7 linked regions of the Homo sapiens genome follow. The protein of the gene in region 3 purifies or fractionates together with the protein of the main gene of each other region. This does not show direct contact. Each region holds a gene or a part of one and is shown on either strand. Other genes may lie near its edges. The genes, in order: BMS1, ATIC, PHF2, ANP32B, DHX57, PUM3 and DHX30.

What was found.
Region 1: the proteins of PHF2 (region 3) and BMS1 purify together in Homo sapiens (affinity purification with mass spectrometry, with the first as the bait; one large-scale study listed by BioGRID). This does not show direct contact.
Region 2: the proteins of PHF2 (region 3) and ATIC purify together in Homo sapiens (affinity purification with mass spectrometry, with the first as the bait; one large-scale study listed by BioGRID). This does not show direct contact.
Region 4: the proteins of PHF2 (region 3) and ANP32B purify together in Homo sapiens (affinity purification with mass spectrometry, with the first as the bait; one large-scale study listed by BioGRID). This does not show direct contact.
Region 5: the proteins of PHF2 (region 3) and DHX57 purify together in Homo sapiens (affinity purification with mass spectrometry, with the first as the bait; one large-scale study listed by BioGRID). This does not show direct contact.
Region 6: the proteins of PHF2 (region 3) and PUM3 purify together in Homo sapiens (affinity purification with mass spectrometry, with the first as the bait; one large-scale study listed by BioGRID). This does not show direct contact.
Region 7: the proteins of PHF2 (region 3) and DHX30 purify together in Homo sapiens (affinity purification with mass spectrometry, with the first as the bait; one large-scale study listed by BioGRID). This does not show direct contact.

Annotation. Positions count from the first base shown.
Region 1 is NC_000010.11:42,813,360-42,817,366, forward strand, and holds part of BMS1 (ribosome biogenesis protein BMS1 homolog), read left to right. Parts: intron 1-3,239; coding exon 3,240-3,313; intron 3,314-3,958; coding exon 3,959-4,007. UniProt on the Homo sapiens protein: GTPase required for the synthesis of 40S ribosomal subunits and for processing of pre-ribosomal RNA (pre-rRNA) at sites A0, A1, and A2.
Region 2 is NC_000002.12:215,325,321-215,329,327, reverse strand, and holds part of ATIC (bifunctional purine biosynthesis protein ATIC), read right to left. Parts: coding exon 3,999-4,007; intron 3,342-3,998; coding exon 3,190-3,341; intron 2,507-3,189; coding exon 2,350-2,506; intron 1-2,349. UniProt on the Homo sapiens protein: Bifunctional enzyme that catalyzes the last two steps of purine biosynthesis.
Region 3 is NC_000009.12:93,574,954-93,579,637, forward strand, and holds the start of PHF2 (lysine-specific demethylase PHF2), read left to right. Parts: upstream 1-1,630; 5' UTR 1,631-1,820; coding exon 1,821-1,918; intron 1,919-4,684. UniProt on the Homo sapiens protein: Lysine demethylase that demethylates both histones and non-histone proteins. Enzymatically inactive by itself, and becomes active following phosphorylation by PKA: forms a complex with ARID5B and mediates demethylation of methylated ARID5B.
Region 4 is NC_000009.12:98,010,653-98,014,659, reverse strand, and holds part of ANP32B (acidic leucine-rich nuclear phosphoprotein 32 family member B), read right to left. Parts: intron 3,390-4,007; coding exon 3,271-3,389; intron 2,240-3,270; coding exon 2,188-2,239; intron 1-2,187. UniProt on the Homo sapiens protein: Multifunctional protein that is involved in the regulation of many processes including cell proliferation, apoptosis, cell cycle progression or transcription.
Region 5 is NC_000002.12:38,851,813-38,855,819, forward strand, and holds part of DHX57 (putative ATP-dependent RNA helicase DHX57), read right to left. Parts: intron 3,441-4,007; coding exon 3,245-3,440; intron 2,367-3,244; coding exon 2,242-2,366; intron 2,154-2,241; exon of another isoform or gene 2,069-2,153; intron 1-2,068. UniProt on the Homo sapiens protein: Probable ATP-binding RNA helicase.
Region 6 is NC_000009.12:2,805,882-2,809,888, reverse strand, and holds part of PUM3 (pumilio homolog 3), read left to right. Parts: intron 1-1,984; coding exon 1,985-2,075; intron 2,076-4,007. UniProt on the Homo sapiens protein: Inhibits the poly(ADP-ribosyl)ation activity of PARP1 and the degradation of PARP1 by CASP3 following genotoxic stress. Binds to double-stranded RNA or DNA without sequence specificity. Involved in development of the eye and of primordial germ cells.
Region 7 is NC_000003.12:47,840,834-47,844,840, forward strand, and holds part of DHX30 (ATP-dependent RNA helicase DHX30), read left to right. Parts: intron 1-43; coding exon 44-345; intron 346-783; coding exon 784-904; intron 905-2,272; coding exon 2,273-2,422; intron 2,423-4,007.

The sequences.
Region 1 (4,007 bases), on a different chromosome or scaffold from region 3:
TCCATCTTGATCTATTTCTGTATAATGTTGTTGCGTGTATCTCTTTGTATAGTCTTGAAGTGTTTGCTCTGGATGTTACAATATGCATATTGTAATATAGTAGTCTACTGGTACCAGTATTTACCACTTCAAAGTGTGGAAACCTGCCTTGCATTTATGTCTCTTTACCTTTTCCGCTTGTATGAATCACTGGCTTGAGTATTAGGTGGTGGTATAGTTTTTGTTTCAGTTGTCAAGTGTGATTTTAAGAACTGCGGATTGTCTCGTGTATGTATCCACATTTCTGGTCTTTCCTTTGTCCCTCCTCCCATAGTCCCATATTCATCCCTTCTGCATAAGAACTTTCTGTAGCCATTTTTTTATTTTGATTTTTTTGTTTTAATTTTTTGTATTGTGGAAATGACAGAACATATTTCTGTAGCCACTTTTTAGCATTTCTAAATTTACCAGAGACAAATTCCTATATTCTCTTCCTCTGATAATGTCTTTATTTCTCTCTTCATTTCTGAAGGGTAGTTTCATGGGATATAGAATTTGCAACCAACAGTTTTTTTGTTTGTTGGTTTGGTTTTTTTGTTTGTTTCTTTGGTTGGTTTTTTTTAAGCACTTGAAAATGTTGTGCCACTTCCTTCTGGCCTCCATGGCATTTGAGTTGGCATGTCCCTACAGGCATTCTGCCATTTTTGGTCTTTGTTTTTAGTTTTGAAAGTTTAATCAGTGTTGCTTTCTTTTGTTATACTTTGAGGTTTGCTCAGCTTCTTGAATCTGTAAGTTTATATCTTTCACTAAATGTGGGAAGCGTCAGGAATTAGTTATTTGCATGCTTTTGCAGCTCTGGTCTCCTGTGGGACTCAGATAACATAAATGCGGGGTCTTTTGTTATTGTCCCACAGGTCCGTGCAGCTCTGTTCATTTGTTTTCAGGTTATTTTCTCTCTATTGTTTAGACTGGGTGAATTCTGTTGATACAGGTTTCAGCTTCTCTGATTCTCTCCTCTGTCGTCTCCACTTTTACTCAATAGAGCCCATCTAGATAGATTTTTTTTTAATTTCTGTTACTGTATTTTATATTTCTGTAATTTCCATTTGATTCTTCTTCAGTTTCTTTGCTGACGTTTTCAGTTCTTTGTTTGTTGCCATAGGATTTGTAGTTGCTTGTTGAAGCATATTTATGCTGACTGTTATAAGTGATGAGTCAGATGGTTCCAACATCTGCCTATGTAATTTTTTTATTTTTGCAGGCAGTCCTCCTATTTGGGTTTAGTCTGTAGGTCCTGGTCTACTTTGTGGGCTGTGATTCCAATGGCAATTTAATTTCAGAGCCTTCATGGTGTTATTTTGGTCTGTTTGGCTTATATGTATCACTGGGATTCTCCCACCAGTCCCTGCTGTTGCCCACCTGAGGGAACAGGGGAGCTGCCCCAGGCTGGGCCACCTGCTGCAGCTAGGTGGGTGGGGAGTGGTGGTTGTCTTGGTGTGTGGAGCTGGTTTTCTTGTTATGGGGAAGATTTCCTTTGATCTGGGGGGACTGAGTCTGCCTGGGTTGCCTTCTATTGCTACGTTGGGAGTTGGGAAACTCTGGGCCTGGTCAACTTCCTATTGGATGAGGTCCAGGGAGACACCTGGCCACTATGCATTCCCTAGTCCTAGAGTCCCTCAGCAGCCTTTTTCTTTCCACCTTTCAGAATTCTCCTTTGATCATCTCCTGTCTATTATTTCTTAGGAGGGTATAATGTGTTATCTTCTCTAGACCAGAAATCCTTAATGGTGGTTTCAGGTTGTAACTGTGCTAAAGGGAGAATTGGCGTATTTTTGATGTTGAGTCTTTCTTTTCAAATGAGGACATATCATTATTCAGTAGATAATATTTACAACACCTACTTCCTTGGGTTGAAGAATGTGGTTAAGGCAAGGAAAGTACTTAACACAGTGCCTGGTGTGGAGAGCACCGATGAGTGTTGGTGGTGATGCTATTCCTTTTGTCCTTTGGTAGCATATTAAAGCTTTTCTTCTTTTTTAAAAAAATAAAGTTCTGGTGCATTTCTTGTTAGGTTTATTCCTATTTTATCCTTTTTTGCTTTTATTACAAATAGGAGCTTCCTATCTATTATAACTTCTACCTGGTTCTTTGGCCCTTATGTGAAAATGTTTTAATAGCCTTCTAAACATTGCTCTCCCAAATGAGTTTTAACTTGCCTATTTCTTTTATTTTCCTTTTTTTGAGACAGGGTCTCACTCTGTCACCCAGGCTGGAGTTCAGTGATGCAATTATGGCTCACTGCAACGTCTGCCTCCCGGGCCCCCAAAGTGCTGGGTTTACAGGCGTGAGCCACTGCACCCAGCCTTACTTGTCTGTTTCTTTTAAGAGTGGGAACTATAATTGAGCCCAGAGCTCCAAAAACAAATGAAGGAATGAATGAGTGAATAAGCTCTTCCCATGGGTTTGGTGTGGTTTGGGGCTCTACTCTTAATCTAAATGCTATGTTTTATATAACCTAAAATTTCCCCTAGGTGTGTTACACGATTGTGTTGTGTTGAACTTACATTGAGACTCCTTTTCACATGTGCTGGTATCAGCGTGGAGCTTTTCTATTCATTCCTTGAACTATTCGTTTGGGGGACACACATAGACCTCTGTGTCTTTCATAAAGAGTGTCCATTGGCCAGGTGCAGTGGCTCATGGCTGTAATCCCAGCACTTTGGGAGGCTGAGGAGGGCAGATCACGAGGTCAGGAGTTCGAGACCAGCCTGGCCAATTGGTGAAATCCCATCTTTACTAAAAATACAAAAATTAGCCAGGCTTGGTGGCGGGTGCCTATAATCCCAGCTACTCGGGAGACTGAGGCAGTAGAATTGCTTGAACCCGGGAGGCGGAGGTTGCAGTGAGCTGAGATCATGCCACTGCACTCCAGCTTGGGTGACAGAGTGAGACTCTGTCTCCAAAAATAAAAAACAAAAACAAAAGAGTGTCCATTGTGTATACTGGAAAAATTGAGATTGGGATTTTGATGTGAAGTGCGGAAATGTGGATTGGGTCCATTTAGTTTACCTAAACAGATGATGAAATACTAACTGTTTTACAAAGCATTCCCTAGTGCAAAGTTTTGCCTGTGTGTGTAGTGACAGGAACAGTGAGAATGAGGCTTGGAACGCAGAGCACACTGTGGGCCTGTGGTAGGTGGGGCCAGCAGCACATGCATACCTGGCTCACAGAGCAGCCTTTGGGTGTTCTTTTCCCAGAGGAGCTCTACGGTGACTTTGAAGACTTGGAAACAGGGGACGTGCACAAGGGAAAATCAGGCCCCAATACTCAGGTATGACTTTGTCGTAGCTGGCTGTTCTTGGTCATTGTGTTCTGAGAGAGGCCCACATTGAGAAATGCAAATCTTACTTGTGATGTGTGAAGATTGCAGACTGGATAGATAGATTCCTTCCTAAAGGGTGGGGATGTGGGGACCAAAGAGAAGCTTTCTTGTTTACTTGTTAAGTTTTGGATGACAGTTACTACCGTTTCTTGCCATAGTCATTTGCCAAGTCCACTGTGATTTTTCACTCACGGAAGTCTTAGCTTCTTGGACTTACATTCAACCATTGGCATCATTCTCCTTTTTTTAAATTTAAGTGTCATTTAAAAGAATGAAGTCCCTGTTCTCCCTAGTATTTCTTTAGAACAGGGTCTGGGAGCATCTGGGTGAGGGACACGTCTGTTATTTTTATTCTAGTTTGTGTTCCCAGCCAGCTTAAGGATTAGCAGCTAATTGTAATGCAGATGTAACCATTTCCTGTAGCAGTACCATGTTATTCAGAGACAAAGGTTGTGTTGTGTTTTCTTTTGTTTTATTGATAATGATAACAGATTTTTGCTAAGATTCTTGTTTAAATAGAACTTTAAAAAAGCTAATGTTTAAAGAAAAGACCTTCATAAACATACACAAAATTTTTTCTTCTGGAAATTTAAGAATGAAGATATAGAGAAAGAAGTTAAGGAAGAAATTGACCCCGACGAAG
Region 2 (4,007 bases), on a different chromosome or scaffold from region 3:
ATGAAGGCTTTTATATAGTCCAATGAAAATGCTTTGGAAAATGAAAAGTATAAGAACTGACAGTACATGGGGATTTTTTTGTCTCAGAATCTTAATGGAGAATATAAACTATAAGCAGGAAATAGGTCAGATATAACAGCAGACAAATCAGTTTCAAGAAGTCCTACAAGGAAAAATTTGTGCAAAATGTCAGGTTGCTAATTATTCATTCAGTAAACATTTAGGGAATGTGCCAAGCAGTCTTCTAAGCCCTGGGGATTCAGCGACAAACAAAAACAGATGCAGCTTCTGCTCTCAAAAGCTGACATCCTGGCTGGGCGCTGTGGCTCATGCCTGTAATCCCAGCACTTTGGGAGGCCGAGGCAGGCAGATCACCTGAGGTCAGGAGTTCAAAACCAGCCTGGCCAACGTGGTGAAACCCTATCTCTACTAAAAATACAAAATTAGCCAGGTGTGGTGGCAGGCGCCTGTAGTCCCAGCTACTTGAGAGGCCGAGGCAGGAGAATCACTTCAACCCGGGAGGTGGAGTTTGCAGCGAGCCAAGATCGCACCACTGCACTCCAGCCTGGGCGAAAAGAGTGAAACTCTATCTCAAAAAAAAAAAAAAAAGGAAGCTGCCATCCTAATGGGGGAAGACAATTTGAACAGATTGAATAGAAACACATGCAGCAAAACAGGGTGATGGGATGAAAGCATGATGGGCTGCTACTTTGGTCTAAGCGGTCAAGGAAGGCTTCTCTGAGGAGGTGAGGCCTGAATAACAAGAAACCAGGACGGTGAAGGGCAGAGGGAAGAATTCTGGGTGAAGGGGACAAGGAGCCAGAGGCGCTGGAGTGGAAAGAGCTGGGCCCACTTGGAGGCACAGGGCGGAGGGGCTAGCAGCAGGCGCAGGGAGAGCTGCTGAGGGGGCAGATAGGAGGCAGGCAGGCAGCACAGGGTTTGTGGGGCAGGGCAAAGTGCTTAAGAAAAGCCAAGGAATGGCTTTAAGTAGGGTCTGACATCATCCGATTTCCATTTTTAAAAGATTACTGTGCTGTGAAGCCCAGAAAGGCCGAGAGAAAACAAATTACTTAGATTACTTCAGCCTACAGGACTTCACAGGGTGTCTGTGGGGATTTGGGAAGTGTTAGTGTCAAAGTGTATCTGAGATCTGAGGCCAGGTGTGGTGGCTCACGCCTGTAATCCCAGCACTCTGGGAGGCTGAGATAGGCAGATAACTTGAGGTCAGGAGTTTGAGACCAGCCTGGCCAACATGGTGAAACCCCATCTCTACTAAAAACAGAAAAACTAGCCAGGCATTGTGGTGCGCACCTGTAATCCCAGCTACTCAGGAGGCTGAGGCAGGAGAATCGCTTGAACCAGAGATTGCGCCACTGCACTCCAGCCTGGGTGACAGAGCGAGACTCCGTTGTCTTAATTTAAAAAAAAAAAAAAAAAATCTATCTGAGGCAGAACAATAGAACGCGGCAAACGTGAAGAAACTTTCAGATTCTCCTCCCACCTGGCACGCTGCTCCCCTCCCCCATCGCTCTCTCAGCTGATGACAGGGAAAGGAAGCCCAGGCTGCACCCCCTCACCAAATGCTGACCGCCCCAGGCAGGAAGGAGGCTGCCCTTGCTCTCAGCCAAGGCCAGCTGCACCGGTAGTGCTTGGGATTCCAAGGCCTCCATGCCTGGGACTCTCACCTCTGTCCCTGCCCCTACTCTCCCTTGTACCAGAGCAGGACAGGCTCTCACAGCCTACCTTTGGAACAGAACAGGACACACATTTAAAAACCCTCTCTAAACTCTACAAACCCAGAGAAAGTCCTACTTTCTTGTTCCAAGAAACCTCTTTATCGTTGTTAGTTCTTAACATCACATTTCTGCTTTGGCCTACTTCAATTGGGCTTCTAGATCCAATATTCCAAGGCAACGGCTTCTTACAATATGTGCAAAACAAACAGTCCCTTTTCTGTTCTCAAATGCATTCTAAAAGGTTGGAATTTCACAACTTTTCTTCTGCTGGTTCCTCCACAGTACACCTACCAAGCCTTTACCCCAAGGCTTTCTTGACCCTCTTCTCTATAAAATCCAGGCCATCCCATCCTGTCTCATGTCTTCAAAAAGATCTACGTGGCAGAGACATTCCAATCTCCATCTCCCCCATGACATCTTTTCAGAACTCCAGACTACTCAACTTCTGTGCTCTTCAGTCCAAATGGCGTCTCAAACCAGATGGTTATCAGATGGCTACAGGAGGCATTACGGAATGTATCATCTTCTGAATGTGAACCACATCAGATGCAATACAGAGAAACACACACTCTCCAGGCACAGCAAACCATGCCACAGAACGCTCGGGCTTTACCTGTGATGGGAAGCTTGGGCTGCAGTGTGTACAGCTGGGCAGGGGTCTGATGTGGGTTCATTCCATATCTCAAGGGCATCTGAGATACGCCTTTGCTGTACTGTTTCCTGAAATAATCTGAAATTGCTTCATCATATTGTGCCGTATGAGTGAATGCCTACAAAAAGCGTAAGTTTTGTGAGACACGAGCAGCACTTTCCAAAGTGGGGACAAGATGGTTTTCTACGTCCACAGCAAACAACATCTCCTCACTATTCAGTGCTATGTGGTGGCTGCACAACACGATGACACCATGAATGACAGCAAAGCACTGAATGGCCCAACAAATTACCCCTTTCCAATTCTTTTTCAATCTTTTTTTTTTTTTTTGAGACAAAGTCTCACTCTGCTGCCCAGGCTAGAGTGCAGTGGTGTGATGTCAGCTTACTGCAACTTCCACCTCCTGGGTTCAAGCGATTCTCCTGCCTCAGTCTCCCGAGTAGCTGGGATTACAGGCGTACCACACCACACCACACTCGGCTAATTTTTGTATTTTCAGTAGAGACAGGGTTTCACCACATTGGCCAGGCTGGTCTCAAACTCCTGACCTCAGGTGATCCGCCCGCCTCGGCCTCCCAAAGTGCTAGGATTACAGGCGTGAGCCACCGCGCCCAGCTCTCTTTCAATCTTTTTGACAGAACACCTCTGTAATAGCTGGTTTCTCCATTTTTAACAAAAGGATAGCAGCTCCAAGCAAAGCTTTGGTAGGTAATGCAATCTACCAAGAACTGAATACTGCTTGGTCTGGCAAACACTGCACTCCATGGATGTAACTTACAATATCATGAAAGTGCATCCCACCTTCAAGGCTAACTGGCGTCTAGTCTCCAAGGAGGTGTCCTTACTCTCGGAGCTCTGCATCTCCGTGGACACCACCACATAGTCCTCTGGTTCACACACCACTGTCACTCGAGCGTGGTTTTTGGCTGCAGCTCTCAGTAAGGTTACTCCACCTTTGAAGAACAAAAGACTTATTGATTTTTGTATGTCCCTATCAGCTTATGAACCGCTTTTAAATAAAGTCATTGTGCATGTACTTCCATTTTAATTCCTGACTTAAAAATCAGGAAAATAAGCTGGGCGCAGTGGCTCATGCCTGGAATCCCAGCACTTTGGGAGGCTGAGGCAGGTGGATCACCTGAGGTCAGGAGTTCGAGACCACTCTGGCCAACATGGCGAAATTCCATCTCTATAAAAAATACAAAAAAAATTAGCCAGGCGTGGTGGTGTGCACCTGTAATCCCAGCTACTCAGGAGGCTGAGGCAAGAGAATCACTTGAGCCCAGGAGGCAGAGGTTGCAGTCAGCCAAAACTGTGCCACTGTACTCCAGCCTGGGTGACACAGCAAGACTTCATCTCAAAAAAATAAAAATAAAATAAATAAATAAATAAATCAGGAAAATAACCCAGATGCATCTCTGCATACAAAAAAAGCTTAGAAAATATAAATGAAAAAAAGAAAATATAAATGAATTATAGTAATCCCAAAACACAATCCAGAAGTAGCTATTTTCTTTCTATTTCCTCAGTAATAAAATTCAAAATGAAATCTCACTAAAATTTAAATAATCCTCTCCTCTCAGTCTTCTAAAATGGTTTTTCTGACTTACCAATGTCAA
Region 3 (4,684 bases):
CCAGGCTTTCACCCAGGAGGAAGGGAACCAGTGACAACCGGAATTCAGGTAGGAAGGCCTATTGCAGGCCATCCTGGCCAGTCCAGAGGTGTGGGAGCTGGGGGTCTCCTGCTCTTTCCTCTCCCTCTATGGCCAGCTACTTCTCCCCCCGCCCCCTTCCCCAGTGCCCAGTGCTTTGGGCACTGCCCTGAGTCTGTATCCACGGGGTCACTTGTTGGGGGTGGGTGGCTGACTCTGAGGGTAGATTTTGGCTCAGTAGGAGGAAGGACCTTAATTGAGCCGCCTGCGGTGGAGCAAACGGCCCCTTGGCAGCTGCAGGTGGGCGGTGATGGTGAGGGGCTGAGGGGCTAAGGAGCCTTGTCATGGATGCTGCTAGGAGACTGAGCCAGGTTTCCTGTCCGGAGATTCTGGAATTCCGAGCAGGGGTGGCCCACATTTCCCAGCACGATGCGGATTTTGCTGAGGGAGGATGGGGAGAGAAAGAGGGTGAGGGAGGAAGGGCGGGCAGGGATGTGGCCCCTGCCCAGCGCGGATGCCCCAAGGATGCAGCGCTGGCGAGGCAGGGAAGTCCTCCTCTAGAACGCGTGCAAGTGACCCCTCAGAGCGCACCTCCGCTTCTCCTCCCCACCGTGGGGGCTCAGTTCCCTGGACACGGGGGCCAGGGTTCCCATACTCCTCGCCCCTTAGGTCACGGGCCTGGGGGGCTCAAATGCCAGGGAGCTCTCTCTTGACAGAGCTGACCAGCCCGGCCCCTTAGGTCACGGGCCTGGGGGGCTCAAATGCCAGGGAACAGAGCTGACCAGCCCGTGCCAGCGCACTCCCGGCCCGGGCTTCTGTCCTCTTCCTCTGGGGCTGAGCATCAGGGAAGTCCGCGGGATCCTGCGAGGGAGGCGGCAGTCCCCAGCCGAAAATGAGGGGAAAGAGGAAGTGGTGTCCCAACCAGAAACTCAGTGGGGAACGGAGGGAGGCAGCGCGGCCGAGGAGGAGGAACACCCCCACCGTGGTGGGGGTCAGAAGAAAGTTAGGGCCAAGTATTTGCTTGTCGGCCTTCTAGACTAGGAAGGCTCTCCTGCGGGCTCCACTCCCGCACCCCGCGTCTCTCCTTCTGCCTTGCCCGGGTTCCCCCAACTTATCTTATCCTCGGGGTCCCGCCCACCTTCTCCCCGGGGTCCCACCCCACTTTCAGTCTCAAGGCTCCCCCAGCTCACCTTCGCGCCCGCGGACCCCTGGGTCTACCTTCAGCCTTGGGGGCCCTTCTCGGCCTATCTTCCACCTTCGAGATCCCCCCACCCGCCTTCTCCCCCGGCAGGGTCCCCCCGGCCGTCTTCTCCCCCGGCAGGGTCCCCCAACCCACCTTCTCCCCCGCAGGGTTCCCCAGCCCGCCTTCCCGGCGGCGGGAGCGGCGGCCCAGGCCGGCGGGCGGAGGCGGCGCCACCCGGGGCGCTGACGTAGAGGCCGCTCGGCGGCCGGGGGTCCCTTCGGTGGGGCCGCGGCTCCCCGCCCGCCGCCCCCGCGCGTCCATTCCCTTTTGTGTCCCGCGCGCGGCCCGTCCCCCGCGCACACTAGCGCCCTGAGCCCCGCGGGCCGGCGGGCGGCTCCCGGCGCGGCCCCTCCAGCCAGCGCGCCCGGCATTGTGTGGACGCGCCTGGCCGGGAGCGCGCGCGGGGGCTGTCGTGCGCCCCCGTCCCCGTCCCCTCCCGGCCGCGGCGCCGCCTGCGCCCCGCCGCCCCCGCCGCCCCCGCGCGGCCCGGCCCCCGGCCCGGCCCGGACCGACCCGGGCAGCGCAGCGGCGGGGCCGAGCGGCGGCGCGGCGCGGCAACATGGCGACGGTGCCCGTGTACTGCGTCTGCCGGCTCCCCTACGACGTTACCCGCTTCATGATCGAGTGCGACGCCTGCAAGGACTGGTTCCACGGCAGGTGAGCGCGCGGCGGCTGCTCGGCTCGGCCCGGCCCGGCCCGGCCACCTTGCCCGACCGAGCCCCGCGCCCCCGGCTGCGCGCCCGCAGGCCCGGCTCGGGGACGGGCCGCCGCCGCCGCCGCCGCATTCCGGGCGCCCCGGTCGGGGCTGGGCCGTGCCGGGCCGCGCGCCCTTTTGTGCCCAGGGCGGGGGCGCCAAGCACGGGGCCCGCGCTGGGCGCCCCTGGCCGCCGCGCACAAAGCGAGGCCCGCGGGCCGGGAGGTGGGCTCGGGGCTCGGGGCGCGGGGAAGTTGGGGCTCCAGGCCCGGGCCGGGCCGCCTGTCAGCTGGGTCGCGGCGGCCGCAGAGGCCGGGCATCCGGAGGGAGGCCGAGGCCCGGAGCCCCCGCCGCCTCCCCCCTGCGAAGTTGCAGGAACTTTCCCCGCGCGGGCTCGGGGTTGGCCGGGCCGGGAGAAGCGGGCGCGCAGCCCGGCGCGGGTCCCGGGAGAGGCGCGAGTGGCGGGCTCCGACTCCGGCAGGGCTGGGGAGTCCGTGGGGGCTCCGGCGAGGTGGCAGCCGGCGCGCCCACCCTCCGCCGTGGCCGGCGAGCTCCCTTGGACCTTGTCCCCGAGGGCAGGACCCCTCCCGGACCCCCGCGGAGCAGCTAGACCCGGCAGGCCTGCAGGTCCGCGGGCAGGAGTGCGGTGACAGAATAGTGTCTGTGAGTTGGGTAAGGGGGGTTTGTTGTGGCTTTGCCACCTCCTCCCTGGCCTTCAGTTTTCCCCGTTTCTCTCCTCTCCGTTCCCGGCAGGAACGCCGGTTTTGACATGATCTTATGCTCCCTAAGGAAGATGGGGAGGGGGGAAGGAGGTAACGCTTGGAGACACTGAAAACCCCCGCCCTCTTGGCCCTTGCCGATGGCCATGACCTGGCCCCATGCCTAGGGCAGGTCCCTTCCCACCAAGAAGTAAATGGAGGAGGAGGAAGAGGAGGTGACAGTGTTGCCCAAACTGCTCCAACAGGTTCTCTTGCATCTGACTTTGCCTGTGGGATGTGTTTGGACCCGGGGCTGGCCAGGGCTGTATGCCCTCTGGGGCTCCAGTCCCAAACCACCGGCAGCAAGCAGCCGGGGGAAAGAGAGGGGTGTGTGGTGGTGGGTGGTCCGGGATTCTCCTTCCAGAGAGGAGATCCTCCTGCAGGTTCTAAGACTGGGTCTTCAAGACTGGTCAGTGGTGCTTAAGAGTGGGCTGTGGCCCCAAGTCCAGTCCTGCCAGTTTACATGTGGGGACCTGGGTGGCTGGGATGTGACAGGGCCTGCTATGTCTGTCAGCCCCAGTCCTGAGTCCTACCTCCCTGCTGTTAGAAGGGCCTGGGACTCTGTGGGGTGGGGATGCCCACGGAAATCTGGGCTGCCTTCCTGGGTATGCCCAGGGCTGTGGAAGCCCCTTAGAGCAAGGGAGACTGAGTGTGAACACCGGGCTCTGCCCAGAACAGGGCTGACATGCACACCCTCAACTGGCAGCCGTTGAGAAGTTCATGGCCGGGCCAAAGTGAGTGAGAGCCTCTAAGGCTCCTCATATCCAGGGATGCTGAGCTGCTGGCCCTGAAAAGCCCTGAAAGTGGTGGGGCCTCTGCCTTCTCCCCCATCTCCACCGGAGCCCTGACCTGGCGAGCGCAGTCACTCTGCTACAGAACCTTCTGGGCACCTGTGTCAGCTCCTGGCTGCTGCCCACACTCGGGGCCCAGAGTAGGGAGAGTGAGAGAACGCGAGAAGACCTTTGTCTCGCTGCTTAGGGGACCCTCTGGGAAGGGAAGGCTAGTTCTGAACTAGACTTCGAGGCCAAGGGAAAAACTCCAGGAATGAGGGGCAGGCAGGCGACAGGGGCTGAGAGCTGGCCTGAGAGCTGGTTGGTGTCATTTGCTGTATTGGCCCATGCAAAAAATCCCCAAAAGGGGGATGTCTGGGGAGGCTCTAGCTCCTTTTTTTCTTATTTGAGGTCTCTGATTGAATCCAATACAGGCAGTTGATCAGCACAGATTTATTCTCACCTATTTGGGGTGGCTGTGGGGTCTGAAAGAAGCTGTGCTTTCCCTCGGCCATGAAAGTCATTTTCTCCTGCATCTAACCAAGAGTCATCTGCCAAAGTGAACCCTACAGGGAGAAAGCCTCTGGGTGTGCCTGCTCCCCAATTGTTCTGGGCAGGTGTGTGATGGGGAGGACAGCCGTCAGGGGTTGGTGGTGTTGGTACAGCTCTCACAGCCCTGGGCAAATCCTTTGGTCTCTCAGCATCACTTTTCTTTTCTCATCAGTAAAATGAACGTGTGTGACCAGACCCCGGGGTTTCTCCACCTCCAGATAGTCTTGTATGGCCCCGGTGGTTCTTTCCTGATCTTCGTACCGCCTGTACTGTGATTTACTTCCTATTTAACATTTCAACTCTCTTTTTAAAAGTTTGAATACTTTTAAACTTTTTATTTTGAGGGGACTTTAGACTTACAAAAGAGTTCCAAAAATGGTACAGTTTCCCTGTATCCTTCTCTCCCTTTCCCTGCAGTGAACATCTTACCCAGCCATGGGACCAGTACCACAATGAAGGAGTTAACGCTGGTGCCGGGCTGCTGACTAAACTACAGGCTTTATTCAAATGTATTTAACCAGTGTTCCCCACTTAATGTCGTTTTTCTGTTCTTGGATCCCACCTTGCATTTAATCCTCATGTCTCCTTACTCTCGAAAATATTGCTTTTAAAAGGAAACTTCATATCATTTCCTGAAATAAAACATTAC
Region 4 (4,007 bases), 4.4 Mb from region 3:
GGGGACAATGGTACTGACTTTAAAAGGTTATTCTGAGAATTAAATAACACACAAAACATAGTATGGAACATCATTAAGACTCAAATTGTAGCAAACTAATATTAACTAAAAAGGAAATTCTTAAGAGTATTATGTAGTCGAGACACAGAGACTTACATATAGACCAATTTTTTCAACTAATAAAATCCATGGTTATTTTAATGAAATTAACTATATGTTAAATCATATTTCATACAGGTTGTTTTTTTTTTTGAGACAGACTCTGGCTCCGTCGCCCAGGCTGGAGTGCAGTGGCTTGATCTCGGCTCACTGCAAGCTCCGCCTCCCGGGTTCATGCCGTTCTCCTGACTCAGCCTCCCGAGTAGCTGGGACTACAGGCGCCTGCCACCACACCCGGCTAATTTTTTTGTATTTTTAGTAGAGACGGGGTTTCACCGTGTTAGCCAGGATGGTCTCGATCTCCTGACCTCATGATCCACCCGCCTCGGCCTCCCAATCATACAGGTTCTTAAAGGCAGTGACCAGGTCCTAACCAGGGTAATATCTAGTGTAAATGTAATTGAGAGCTTGACAAAGTGGATGCTGAGAAAACATCAGCCAACAGCACAGTGAACACCTGATTTTCTGAGACACAACCATGAGACTTTTTATTTGAGACAAGGTCTCCCTCTGTCACTCAGGCTGGAGTGCGGTGGCACTATCATAGCCTCACTGCAACTTCAAGCAGTCCTCCCACCTCAGCTTCCCAAGTAGCTGGGACTATAGGTGTGCACCACCATGTGCAGCTAACTTTTTTTTTTTTTTGAGACAGAGTCTTGCTCTGTTGTCCAGGCTGCAGTGCAGTGGCATGACCTCAGCTCACTGAATCTCTGCCTCCTGGGTTTGAGTGCGTGCCACCACGCCTGACTAATTTTTTAATTTTTAGTAGAGACAGGATTTTACCATGTTGGCCAGGCTGCTCTCGAACTCCTGACCTCAGGTGATCCACCTGCCTCGGCCTCCTAAAGTGCTGAGATAACAGGCGTGAGTCACCACACCCGGTCCCAGCTAACTTTTTAATTTTCTGTACAGACAGGGTCTATGTTGTCCAGGCTGGCATACTTTCAACAGTATTAAATAAGTAACAGCTATTTCATTTGTCTTGGTTGTAGTGGGGAAAGGACTAACACTGACAAAACTGGGAAACTGCTACATCTATTTATATATCCTGAAAATGATGGTTCAATTATTAAAGCCTTTTTTTAAAAAATGAAAGAACTCCAAACACAGAAACTCACACTTGACAGTAAACCAAATGACTGGTCCTAAAAACACATTTAAAACATGGGGAACAGGCTAGGCATGGTGGCTCACACCTGTAATCCGAGTAATTTGGGAGGCCGAGGTGGGTGGATCACTTGAATTCAGCCAGGAATTCAAGACCAGGCTGGCCAACATGGCAAAACCCTGTCTCTACTAAAAATACAAAAATTAGCCAAGTGTGGTGGTGCATGCCTGTAATCCCAGCTACTGAGGAGGCTGAGGCAGAGAATCCCTTGAACCTGGGAGGTGGAGGCTGCAGTGAGCTTAGATTGCACCAGTGAACTCCAGACTGGGCGACAGAGCAAGACTCCATCTCAAGAAAACAACAGGCCGGGTGTGGTGGCTCACGCCTGTAATCCCGGCACTTTGGGAGGCTGAGGCGGGTGGACCACGAGGTCAGGAGATTGAGACCATCCTGGCTAACACGGTGAAACCCCGTCTCTACTAAAAATGCAAACAATTAGCTGGGCGTGGTGGCAGGCGCCTGTAGCCCCAGCTACTCTGGAGGCTGAGGCAGGAGAATGGCTTGAACCTAGGAGGCGGAACTTGCAGTGAGCCGAGATCGTGCCACTGCACTCCAGCCTGGGCAACAGAGCGAGATTCCGTCTCAAAACACCACCACCACCACCACCACCCCGAAAAAAACCCCATGAGGACTGAAGACCAACAGGACCCTTGCCATGAGACAGGAATAACTGCTGTAGCAGCAGGGAGCCTGCACCAGCACAGACACACTGATGGGACGATAGAAACGAGAATGTGAATGTGTAAACCACCAGAGCCAAGAGTATTTTATTTTCTTCTCAGTGGTATCATATTCTAAATAATGGATGTTTTTCTCTAATTTTTAACTGAGAATGATCAAAATGCATGCATTAGGCCCACCTTCATCCTCATCCTCATCTTCATCTTCTTCATCAAGTCCAAATTCTTCTTCCTAAAGAATAGCAAACAGCATAACATTAAATTAATTCTGCCAAATTGAAAAGTGCATATAGTACAAATTCTGCCAAACTAAGAAGTACAAATAAATGCAACAATATCAATCAAGCAGGAAACTGTAATGTTATTTTTATCTACTTTGATGTACCAAGACCCACTGATTTTCCTTAACGAGCTTTATAATTTTTCTAAGAAAAATTTTTTTTAGAAGCAAGCAGTTCATTTGCTAGATGTTTAATTAGTATATAACTCTGGATAATTCAAGAAAACATCTTAAAATCTCAAATTTCAAAACAGATTTAGACAAAAATTTCTATATCCCATTCATATACAAAGCTTCTTTCAGAACTTTAATGTCAATCATACACCTAATGACATCACACAAACCCCAAGCCTTATTTTTATACTACAAAAGAGGATGCGTTTTGTTAACAACTAATGTTGTCTGCCTGTTTCCCAAACCTCTTTGAGGGTCAAAGTCAAGACACTGTTTTCTCCTGCCCTCGTATAGCATTTATTTCCTCAGGGATCCTCTATTATTGGGTATTTCATAAACCAGACTGTGCTCTTTCAGGGCAGGACCACAATCTCATTTCATTTTGTACTCCCAACTCTTTAACATAGCAGATATATATTTACTGAATTACACTGAATATACAAGAAAAAGTTTAGACTTGGTAAACATAAACTTCCCTACAATTCAATGAAGGAACAGACATACCATCAATTCTCAACATGTCCAGTTTTCTCACCACACTGAATACTCAATTCATTCCTTCCCCCAGAGGGCCAGAACTTACCTTGCACAGCCAGGAACCGTACTAGTTTGAGTTCAGTAGGCATTCTATTTAGTAGTTATTTAAAGCCAGACAAACACTAAATTAACCAGATTCATATTGTAAATGTATTCACAGGTATACTAATTTCTTCAAAAGGTGTTTTTTCTTTTCTTTTGTCATCTTTTTGAAACCCCCACTTTTGTTGTAATTACAAATAGGAAGCAGGGTAGAAAACAGCTGCACTGACCTCCTCACTGACTTCATCGTCGTCCTCATCCCCTTCTACATCTTCATCTTCATCATCTTCTTCATCAAACTCCTCTTCTTCACCATCCTCATCGTCCTCGTCTTCCTCATCTTCTCCTTCTAAAAATAGTCCAAAAGGGATTCATTAAATATCCTCGACGCTCCACAGGGGACAAAGTGTTGAGGATCTGTGGGCTGGCTCACAGAACAAATGCTGTAAGGCCACGAACTGCAGTCACTTTCTTTCTACTATGTGCTACAGCTCAGTCCCTTTGTCCGATAGAGTCCCATAAAATCAGAGAGCTAGAAGTCCTGGTAGATAAGACAAACACTATAATTCTCGCTGATGAAATGATACAATGGCTAAGATTTGCTTCAAAATTATATGGAGTGGGGAAGAAGGTAAGGGTATGCAGGAATAAAATAAGATCAGCTATGACCAATAATTGCTGAAGCTGAGTGATAAGAACATGGGGGTTCATTTTGCTATTATTTTTACCCTTTGTCACTGTCTGAAATTTTTGACAGTAAAAAGTTAAAAAAAAAAAAATCATGTACCTTCTCTTGGGTATCATTACCAGAGTCACAGTCAGCTGCTCAAATCAGGAACCTGAGAAACACCCATAATAACCCTGTGACTCAGGGGACAGGAGGCTGAGAGGCACCTGCATCTCTAGCTGGTTGTTCGGACCTCTAGTGCGGCAGTTCTTGCTTCTCCTGGGTCCTAGAGCACACCAT
Region 5 (4,007 bases), on a different chromosome or scaffold from region 3:
TTAATCTGAGAGAATGTTTTATTTGGCTTCCTCTTCCAAGTTGTTCAATGATTTTGTTAAAAAAATTTCTTCTTTCAGATGTTCATTTCCAACAGTGGCAAAATGACATTATTTACCATTAATTTTTTTTCCCATTGTTTTCTGGAGTTTCTACAAAAAGATTATTTGCCCCTTAGAGATTTCCAATGTTTTCTGTATAGTAATTTAATATTTATTATTGTCTTGTTCTAGGAATTATTTCTTTTTCTTTTGGTTCATTCTTTTTATCTAAAAGTCTTTCTTTAGTTTCTAATTACTTCATATTTCTTATTTACTAATAATAGTAATGTATTATTTCTTCTAATAGTTCTTCTGGTTATATGCCTTCTCTGTTCAATTCCTTTTTTTTTTTTCTTGCTCTGTCGCCCAGCCTGGAGTACAGTGGCGCAATCTCGGCTCACGGCAACCTCCGCCTCCCAGGTTCAAGCGATTCTCCTGCCTCAGCCTCCCGAGTAGCTGGGACTACAGGCGCCTGCCACCAATCCTTTTTTTTTTTTTTTTTTAATGTTTTGCTTTTAGCTATTTTCTGCTTTCCTATCAGTCCACCAAGTTTACTTAGACTTTTTTTCTTCTTCTCAAGATATTTATTGTGGTACAATACTTTGTGGGAAAACTTCATAATTTTCACAGGACTTTCTCTTTTTTCCCACTAGTTTTCTTTTACTGCTCTAGGGCATGATCCACATGACAAACTATGATTAATGCCATCCATCTTCCTGGCCCTCCTCAGTACTTAAAATATTCAGACTTTTAATTTTTTTTTTTTTTTTTTTTAGAGATGGAGTCTCATGATATTTCCCAGGCTGAAGTGGCTCTTCACAGGTGCAATCATAGCACACCACAGCCTTGCACTCCTGAACTTAAGCAATCCTCCTGCCTCAGCCTCCTCAGTAGCTGGAACTACAAGCATGCACCACTGTGTCTGGCAAGAATTTTTATTTTATGCCTCACCCTTTAATGACTTCTAATTTCATAAGATAAAATCCACATGCTTTATTATTCGTGGTGCTTAAGGCCCTGGAAGGTCTGGCTCCTGCTGCTTCTTCCCTGTGCTACTTTCCCCTTTGCTGCTACACAGCAGGTGCACTGGGCTTCCTTGTTTCTGGACTCACAAAGCCCCTTCCCACTGCAAAATCTTCAAACATACTTTCCTTACCCCCGTTTGTCACCTGGGATTCCTTCTCATATTTCAGTTTTCTTTTCTTTTCTTTTCTTTTCTTTTGAGACAGGGTCTTGCTTTCTTGACCAGGGTGGAGTGCAGTGGTGCTATCACAGCTCACTGCAGCCTCAACCTCCTGGGGGCTCAATTGATTCTCCTGCCTCAGCCTCCTGAGTAGCTGGGACCTTAGGTGTGAGGCATCACGCCTGGCTAATTTTTTTTTTTTTTTTTCTGTATCCCCAGTAGAATGACTACTGGCTATTTTTTGTTTTGTTTTGTTTTTTTTACTTTTCGTGGAAACATGGTCTCACTATGTTGCCCAGGTGGGGCTCCAACTCCTGAGCTCAAGCGATCCTCCCACCTTGGCCTCCCAAAGTGCAGGGATTATGGGTGTGAGCCATTGCGCCCGGCCATACTTCAGTTTTGAATTTAAATTGTCATCTTACAGAGATATGATCTTTGAGCATCTATGGGTCTCTCCCTCCAAACACAGCATGCCGTTTATTCCTTCATAGTGCTTATTCCAATTTACAATCATTTGCTTGTTTACTTGTTCATTATTTGTTTTTTCTACTGGACTGTAAGAGATGAGGGGGAGCCATACATGCTTGTTCATCACTGTATCCCCAGCAACTAATATATCACTTGGCATTTAATGCAGGCTCAATAAATACATGAATCAATGTCAGGACTGAATGGCCAAATAAACAAGGAAGAAGATACATTCAGCCACAGCATGCATGACATCTGTTATTTCTACTAAGTACGGTATTCAACTTAGCATAATGCCCAGGATGGTGTGAAGTATACCTTCTAACCTAACAGGATGACTCCATCTAATAAGTGATGAGCATGTGCTGTCCTTTTTAGTGTTACAGACCCTGGAGATCAAGAAAGCAGTTGCTCTTCTCTAACATAGGCCTTCCTTGTGGCAAATTACCATTACTAGCTGCATGAAACTGAATTGGAACTAGAAAACAATTTTTTCTGCCATGCCTTCAATTCAGGTGAGTGTGTGTTCCCTGGGAAAGTCTTTGTTTTACCTTTCTTCTGTCCTCTCATGAACTTCATCAACAATGATATGGGAAACTCCTTGTAGAGCTGTATCTCCTTCTAGCCTTCTCAGCAGCACTCCCGTGGTGCAGTATAACAGTCTGGTGGCTGAGGACTTACACATGAAAGGGCAATATAAATCATTAATAAAATTTTCAAAAAAAGGAAACATTACTGGAAAGCCATTTTGAATGGATAGTGATAAAAAATATTGGAAACACCAGCAGTTCCATTTAATAGGAAACCATACTAAACATAGTTTCTTGCCAGGGACAGTAATAAAAGCCTTTCTACTTCATATCACAATGTTAAGATTTTCATAAAAAGCATTAAAAAACAGTGAATAATGAAAACAGTTCTCAATCTGTCTGCTCCTTATTTGGTTAAATGGATTATGTCCCAAGTTCAAGAGCAAAACAGTCTTTACTAGATGACTTCTGCCAATAAAAAATAAAAAGCTTTACAGAGGAAATTTAGTACAACCAAATAAGAGTTTTTTTTTTTTTTTTTTTTTTGAGACAGAATTTTGCTCTTTTTGCCCAGGCTGGAGTGCAATGGCGCAATCTCGGCTCATTGCAACTTCCGTCTCCCAGGTTCAAGGGATTCTCCTGCCTCAGACTCCCGAGTAGCTGGGATTACAGGCGTGTGCCACCACACTTGGCTAATTTTTGTATTTTTAGTAGAGATGGGGTTTCTCCATGTTGGTCAGGCTGGTCTCGAACTCCCGACCTCAGGTGATCCACCTGCCTTGGCCTCTCAAAGTGCTGGGATTACAGGTGTGAGCCACCGCGCCTGGCCATAAGAGTTCTTATACCAAAATATTTCTAAATATTTCTAAATATTTAAATAAATGATTACCAAAGGTAATCATTAATTTAAAAATAACCTGAAAGTATATATCCCAAATTGCCCATGAATCTCCTAACCCCCAAAACTTTTTATACCTAAAAACCATAAATTTCTGTTACCAGGAAATAAGCAGAGCATACAAACCTTGACACTTTCTAACCGAATCTGGTATCCCACGGTCAGACCCACCCTCTCTGCTCTTTCTTTAGCAACGCGTTCAGCAACAGAGATTGCAGAGATTCGTCGGGGTTGGGTACAGATGATGTTGGCTACCTTCTCAGGTGGTCCATTCAGAGAATCATCCAGAATAAACTGCGGAATTTGTGTGGTTTTCCCACATCTGTACATTAAAACAAATAAGTCCTAAAATGAAGTTTTCAAGGGCTAGTTAACTAAAGAAGCAATCATATGGAATGAGAAAAGTGATAAAGCTAATTAGAATAAAAGTTGTTCAGTTTCAGGTATTTTCTAAAACAACCTCCTGACTTATTACCAAGAGGTGGGAAATTCTAGGAATTTGCACTCCAATCAAAAGGACAATCAAATAATAGTTTAGTAACATTTGTAAAATTGGGACTATTGAACAGACATTAAATTAAGGTCTGTAAATGCTTCTAGGAACGTAAACTCTACACATGAACCCCAAAGAAAAGGAGTATTAGCTTATGATTATCAAAATATTTTATAGGTATTAATTTAGCTATGATTAGGCTGAGGTTAAAAAGATAAACTAGAAGGTACGAATTATTACCATATCACTGAGTCTGGACACAAATATAATTATTAAATTGTATACTCTTGAATAAATAAATGAAGTCTGCAATTTGTCCCTGCTAAATAGGAGAATGTAAAGCAGGAAAAATAACGCACCATAATTAAGTTGTTTTTAAAAGAAAAATAAAGGCTG
Region 6 (4,007 bases), about 91 Mb from region 3:
GGACTAGTGCCTGTTTATTTGGCATTGAAATACATGTGACCAAAGAGTAAGCCAGTCTTTGGCGCTTTCTGGTTTTTTGTAAGCCTTACAGCTGCTCTGTAGAAACTCAGCTCTCTAGAGAAGGACAGCATTAGCATTTGCATGCCATTCCCCTCTCAGTCCTATCTCCAACCAGACCTTCACTTACAAAATCCAAATTCCATCTGGTATTTAAACCACTGGAGAGATTTTTTTCCCCTACTGAGTTAAAACAGTTTGGGCTTTTCATTACAATGTCTGGAAAAAAGTGACAGATCATGAATTCATGTCTTGCGGCAAGTGGCAGCTCTGATGGCTAGTGTGGCAATCAGTATAGCAGTAGAGCTGTCACTTCTCACCTTACCTTTAAGAATGGGGACCTGGGGCTATTTTTCACTAAATTTTTTTGTAAAAGAGAAGCCTTGTGATAAATATTAAAGAAAAAAATAACATATGGAATAATCTTTTTCATTATTAAAAAGTTGATGTATAGTTGAGTTTATGCCAGAAAAGTAGTCTGGCTTAATGTCCAGTGGTTTTTCTCCCTCTTAATTAAAATGTGCTGAGAACCCTAAAATCTGCCAGTTTGGGTCTGATGTGTTTGTCTTGTCGTATTCAGCACCAAATGAGTTTGTCCTCCTGCACGTCTAGCTGTTTTGATTCTCTTTTACTGGATAGTAGCCACCTTAAAACTTAGTAGTTTTCAAAACAATGACTTGATCAGGGTCTGGTGGAGCCTGCCCCTCTATGCTCAGAGTCAGAGTCATCTAGGGCTGCTCGGTTTGTGGTTGGAGTGTCCACTTTTCGCTTAGCTCACTCACATGGCTGGCAAGTGAGTACTGACTGTTGGCTGGGGACCAACAGCCTCAGTTTCCCTTTCTAGGCTGCTTGGGCTCCTTCACGAGATGGTGGTTGCTTTTTTAAGAGTGAGCATCCCAAGAGGACAAAGTAAATGCGTGGCACTTCCATGATTTATCCTTAGCAGTCATTTAATGCCACTTTCATCATACTGTCTTGGTCAAGTCAATCACAGAGGCCCACTGTGATTCAAAAGAAGACATGGATTCCCCCTATAGATGGGGGAGTGGCTGCATTCTAGAAGAGCACACAGGACAGGAGATATTATTGTGGTCAGCTTTGGAAAACAATTTGCCTCACTAGCTGAACTCTGTCCCTCTTTAGCAGGTACCATGAAAGGCTGAATAGCCATAGGCCTCTTGGCTTTTAAAGAGTCCTTACATTCAGGTATCTTTGAATGAATTATATAGTACATGCTACCTGACTATGATGTTTGCCTTCAAGATAGGTTGTCCCTACCTCCATCTGCACTAAATCTTAGCTATCAGAATTTCTCCTTTGTCCAAGCATTAATTGCAAAGTGAAAAAGATAATACCACGACCTTGGGAATCAAATACTAGAATAACGGGAGAAAAATGGTATTTTTGATTTGTGAGTATGTAAGCGTTGTAAAGAGAAATGCCAAGTTTAAGCTAGAACAGTCATTTATCAACCACTGTTGAACACGTGAACACTGTGTTATGTTCATGGCACCTTGTGAGTGAGCATTTCTCCATGAGGAAGAACTTGATTTCAACCAAGCATGAGGTGCTACTGTGAAACATTTATTTCCTGAATAGCTTTCAGGTCAAAGTTAAATCATTAAATAATACAAAGAAGTGCAGACATAACCAAGTGAGTGTTTTATTAGAATTCATAGTTTATCTTGAGTAATTACTGCTAAACATAGCTTAGGTTTTGGATCAGAGTTAAAAGAAATGGCTCTTTTAGAAATGCATTAGATAAACCTGCACTGGAATTTTTTGTGTTAAAAGGGAGATTGGGTGAAAGCTACTTTTGTTAGCTTTTTTGTTTAAAAATATTTGCAGATTTAAGGGCAGTAGAGAAGGGGGTAGGGAGTATATATCTTATTATGTGATGTTCACTAAGCTTCAGTATATTTTACAGGTTGTTTTGCAAAAACACTTGTAGAGCATGTTGGTATGAAGAACCTGAAGTCCTGGGCTAGTGTAAATCGAGGTGCCATTATTCTTTCTAGGTATGTATAACATGTGCCCTTCTCTGAGCAGGGCCTGGTCATGCAAAAGACACACTTCCTTCACGTTGATTTCTCAGTTCTAATATTTGTTCTCAGTAGTCTAATATTACTCCCAGTCACTCATGGTCTAGACAAACATACCAAATATTAGAAAGCAAATGTAACTCTTTCAGTCAGTCCTTAGGAATCTTTTTTTTTTTTTTTTTTTTTTTTGAGATGGAGTCTCACTGTCACCCAGGCTGGAGTGCAGTGTCACGATCTCAGCTCACTGCAGCCTCAACCTCCTGGGCTCAAGTTTTCCTCCCATCTCAGCCTCCTGTGTAGCTGAGACTACAGACGCATGCCACCACACCCAACTAATTTTTATTTTTTTATTTTTTGTAGAGATGGGGGTCTCCCTGTGTTGGCCAGGCTGATCTCAGACTCTTAGGCTCAAGTAGTCCTCCCATCTTGACCTCCGAAAGTGCTGGGATTACAGGCATAGCCATTGTGCTTGGCCCTTAGGATTTTTAAACTACCATCTTTTTGACAAATTATAACATTCACAAGGTATCAGGTGGCTTCACCACATTTATGGTTTTGACCAAAACATAATTTTTTTTTTTTGAGATGGAGTCTCACACTGTCGCCCAGGCTGGAGTGCAGTGGTGCGATCTCAGCTCACTGCAAGCTCTGCCTCCTGGGTTCATGCCATTCTCCTGCCTCAGCCTCCTGAGTAGCTGGAACGGCAGGTGCCCGCCACCACGCCCAGCTAATTTTTTTTATTTTTAGTAGAGACCTGGTTTCACCGTGTTAGCCAGGATGGTCTCGATCTCCTGACCTCGTGATCTGCCCACCTCGGGCTCCCAAAGTGCTGGGATTACAGGCATGAGCCACTGTGCCCAGCCTGTATTTTTTTTAATGAATAACTTACATCCCTGTGAAAACTGTGACAATGTTGACTTTTAAATCATGCCTAATTCTACATGTAATTTCCTTCATTGTTTTAAAAGATTGTAAAAGGATTGGAAGAGCATTTGCTACTGAAGTGTGTGTGCTATTTGTTGATATCTGACTTAAAATGAGAAAAAAACAGTGATGAGCTATGGCCTCTTTTGTATTATTCTCTGAACTTAGTTGAGTTTATAATCAATCCACAAATCATTGAAATTTTCCATACATTCTCTGTGCAGATGAAAACCTTCTGTTAAGAGCATTCATTTAAAAAAAGATTTGTATGTTGCTTTGAAGCAATTACTGTTGATTTTTCCCCTGCTGTGTTATTAAGGTTTGGGAAAACAGATACCAACCCTAGTTTGAATTTCTCAAGATACTTTACTTGCAACATGCTATGCAACTTAATCTATGTTGTTTGTAAATGTTATTTTAAGTGTTTCTTCAACATATACGTGATCTGGTACACATAATACTCACACAGGAGCATTCATAGCTTCAGGTATGTCAGTGTCTCCAAATATATAAGTGTTACAGATCATTTTGTTCATTTCTGCTTAAAATTAGTTAATTTTCCAGTTGATGTTAAACAGTCAGAATTCGTTAGCTGATACATGAACTTTTTCATTACAAATTTTTTTACCAGGCATTTGGAGTGTTAACACCTACTGACACATTCTTTCATTACACTCAATTAACTGGAAATTTCAGCAATGCCATGAAATTAATTTATAAAGGTTGTTCATCAATCAGAACTCCCATTAGGTGGATTTCAAACATAGGAAGGATACTATAGGTTTATTATGGAGCACTACTCAGAATTGGAACAGGAGCAGAGGAAATATTTGAAGTTCTAAATGGAAGTTGAGCTATATATAACAATAATACAAAAAAATTGTTTTTGTAAATTTTGGGTGAAAAGAAAATCAGCCTTGTATGTTGGCTGAAAAGTAACTCAGAGAAGCAGAATTCTCTAACATTTGGGAGCATTGGCACTTG
Region 7 (4,007 bases), on a different chromosome or scaffold from region 3:
TAAAGATGGTATCAATCCTTAAAACGTCCCTTTTCCCCTCCAGGGTTGGGGTCTGCTAGGTCCCCGGAATGAGTTGTTTGACGCAGCCAAATACCGAGTGCTAGCTGATCGCTTTGGCTCCCCTGCCGACAGCTGGTGGCGTCCGGAACCCACCATGCCCCCTACTTCCTGGCGGCAGCTGAATCCAGAGAGTATTCGACCAGGGGGACCTGGGGGCCTATCCCGCTCTTTAGGCCGGGAAGAAGAGGAGGACGAGGAGGAAGAGCTAGAAGAAGGGACCATAGATGTTACCGACTTCTTGTCCATGACCCAGCAGGATTCCCACGCTCCACTCAGGGACTCAAGGTACAGATGGAGGATGGGGATGCAGCAGAGGCTGGCTGTGCCTTGACACGGGGATGGGCGAATGTTCTCTGCTAGCTTTCTCTGAGATGGGAGCGCCCCTGCCTCACATTTCAGCCTGTGTGCCCCATCACTCAGTGTGTGTCTGCCCATTCTTGGGGGACAGCCAGCTGTGGTCTTCTATGTGGCTGGGCTTTTGCAGAACAGCAGCATGGAGCCCCTGCTCTCTGCTATCTTATCTGTGTGAGGGAATGGAGGGAGCAGTCCCCATGCAGTGTGGCTGTGGGAGGAGCAGAGACGCCCGGTTTCCCATCCATTTCATGCCTTCTGCCCTTCTGGCTCCCTGCTGCAGCGCAGCGTCCTCACCCCTACATCGCAGAGCCTCAGGGAAATTGGTCCAGGAAGAGAGAATTCTTTCAGTTAAACTTTTGGTCCTCCCAGGGGGAGTTCCTTTGAGATGACAGATGACGACAGTGCCATTAGGGCTCTGACCCAGTTTCCACTTCCCAAGAACCTTCTGGCCAAGGTGATTCAGATTGCAACGTCATCCTCCACAGCTAAGGTGAGTTGGGTCTCCTAGAAGTTTGTGTGGGGGCCGTTTACTTGGTCATGTCTGGTGTTCCCTAAAGGCAGGTTTAGAGAGGGCTGAGGGGGTGTGTTCCTCCAGCCCAAACCTAGGCCAGGTGGAGGAACTCCTGCTTGGGAGGAAAAGCAGCAGGTGTGATGGAATGGAGGTCAAGCCTCAGCAGCACAGGGAGTGGGCTTGGGGGCCGCAAGAGCAGAAGACCCATACCTCTTCTGGGCGGTGGATTGTCAGTGGGGAAGGGTTAGAGGTGTGGGTCTTGGTGAGGTATGAATTTCTCTCTTGCTGCCAGGCGAAGGGGCTTTGGTCATGAAATGCCTAACCTTGTTTTTACTTTAACTCGTTGCTTTGAATTTTGTCCTGCTTGTCTCTTTAATCACCTAGCCTTGCTTCTCATGTAAAATAAGACTCTCTCTAGCTAAGAAAGCCGTACAAACCCCAATTGACCCCTTAATTTACAAGACACTAAGGGCTCCTCACCCAACCCCCTTTCGTAAGGAGTTGGCCTGGGTAAACAGATCCTCAGCATTTCAAAGGAGCCTAATTAACTGATAAGGTACGAACACCAACAATATATGAAGTTCCCAGGAATTTTCTCCAAGAGATAACAACATAAAACCTTGAGTTCGTGTCTGGCGTAGACCCTATATCTAATTATAATGAAAGATTTAGAATCTTGCACCTGGTACTGTTGCTCTTCTTGTAACCATTTGTCTTTTAAGTTGTTTATCACTCTGTAACCATTTTGATTCTTTTGATTCTTGCATGTTTTTACTTCTGTAGAATTATTACATTTAAGTCCCCCTCCCCTTCCTAAACCTAAGTATAAAAGTTAATCGAGCCCCTTCCTCGTGGCCGAAAGAATTTTGAGCATTAGCTGTCTCTTTGGCCGCCGGCTTAATAAAGGACTCTTAATTCGTCTCAAAGTGTGGCGTTTCCTTAACTCGCCTAAGTACAACAGTTAAGCAGAGCTTCTGTCCAGGTGCAGGGTCTTTTTGCTCCCGCAGGATGTGCCTGGTTTTTAGCTCATGCTGACAGCTTCAACCCACAGCTGCCACGATGTTGCCGAGATGACAGTGGGCTAGGAGGGCAGGTGATGGCATTGCCCAAGCACTGTCTTCTGCAGTGGAAGTCGAGGTATAGCAGGAGAAGCGAGCCTGGGACTAGGGTGCCTGAGCCCATGGGCCTGCTCCTGGCTATGCAGCAGCACCTCTAGCATGGCTCACGCCTGGCACCTGCTGAGATGGTGGCTCATTCTGTCTCTGGGCTCCTTGGCATTCTGAGAATGCCCCAAGTCTCTTCCCATTCCCTACATTTCTGTAACCATCTCTCTTGCCTTCCATGTAGAACCTCATGCAGTTCCATACTGTGGGCACCAAGACCAAGCTGTCTACACTCACCCTGCTCTGGCCCTGCCCCATGACCTTTGTTGCCAAAGGGCGCCGCAAAGCAGAGGCTGAGAATAAGGCGGCAGCCTTGGCCTGCAAGAAACTGAAGGTGAGTCCAGGAAGGTCCTGGGTGTGGTGCATGAGAATGTCTTGAAGCTCCCCTCTGCCAGTGGCAAATGGGTCCCATTTTCTAGGAAATGAAACCACCACAGCAGGCCTTTTGCCTGGCACAAAGACAGCTGGTATGCAGGCCTCGCTTGTAGGCCCTGTGGCTGTTGCCATGGCTTTTCCAGAGGCCCTGTGGAGATACTTTGCCCGTGACCCAGCATTTTCCACACTGTTGGCCTGAACCTGGTGAGGCCGGGAGGAAACTTGCTCATTGTTCTGAATAGTATAAAGCCGGGAGGAGCCGGGCCTGTTTTGAGAGGCAGACCTGGTGTCCAGTATGATCCTGATAACCCGGGTTTTGTGGGCAGAATGAATAATGTGACTTGTGACTGCAGTGATGATTGAGGAAGCAGTCAGGATCAAGGTAGAGACAGTGTGGCAGACAGCTGGCAGTTCTCTTTTTTTTGAGACAGGGTCTCTGTGGCCCAGGCTGGAGTATAGTGGCACGATCATGGCTCACTGCAGCCTCGATCTCCTAGGCTTAAGCGATCCTTTCACCTCAGCCTCCTGCATAGCTGGGACCATAGGTATGCACCACCACTCCCAGCTTATTTTTAAACATTTTTTGTAGAGACAAGGGTCTCACTGTGTTGCGAAGACTGGTCTTAAAATCTTGGGCTCAATCAGTCTTTCTACCTTCACTTCCTAAAGTGTTGGGATTGCAGGCGTGAGCCACCGCTCCTGGCCATGGCCGTTCTCTTGAAAGGGGCTGGTGGAGTTAGCTGATGGCACAGTAGTGGGAGGGAGTTGGGATTGTCTCTGACTGCCTGAGGAGTTAGTAATCTCAACCCATGTTGGTGGAGGTTTAGTTTGCAGACCAAGATAGAAATGGGCCTGCTTTACTCTGAATGGTCAGGTGCACCATTTCATGGGTACAGTTGGCTCTGGGAACCATGTTTTAGTTACAGCTGATGGTGAGAGGTAACAAGAACCTGGAGAAAGACGAGGAAGAGGGGACAGGCAATTGGTGAGATAAAGAGGGCACAGATATGCTACCTGTGACTCGAGGGCAGAACAAGGACTGAGTAGAACTGGAGGCATCTGAGCTTTGGCCTGATGCACACGCACTGTGAGCAGAAGCACCTTGGCATGGTAGGGGCCTGTCTGGGAAGGAGCAAGCTTTGCAGTGGCTGGAGGGCCATTTGTCAGTGAGGCTGGTGGGTAAAACCCATGAAGTCTGGGGAGAGGGCAGAAGCCTGTTCCTGCAGCAAGGAGCTTGTGTTGGCACCTCCTGTGGTATGAGGACCAGATTCCTGTCCTTTAGGTCCTTATAGCTGATGGTGCCAGCACGCCCAGAGGCAGGGGGTTGGCCCCTGTTGGGGGAAGACTTCTTTAAGGAGGGAGTGTTTGATCTGGGCTCCGAAGGGTGAGCAGAGTCCAGCCATTAGAGGTGACAGGAACACAAGACTAGTTTTACCCATGTGCGTGAGGTATTGGAATGCTATGTTTTATCTCTGGTGAGGTGGCTTTAGGTATGTAGGGAGGTAAGACACAGTGTTTTCCTTCCAGTGGCTTGTTTGATCAAG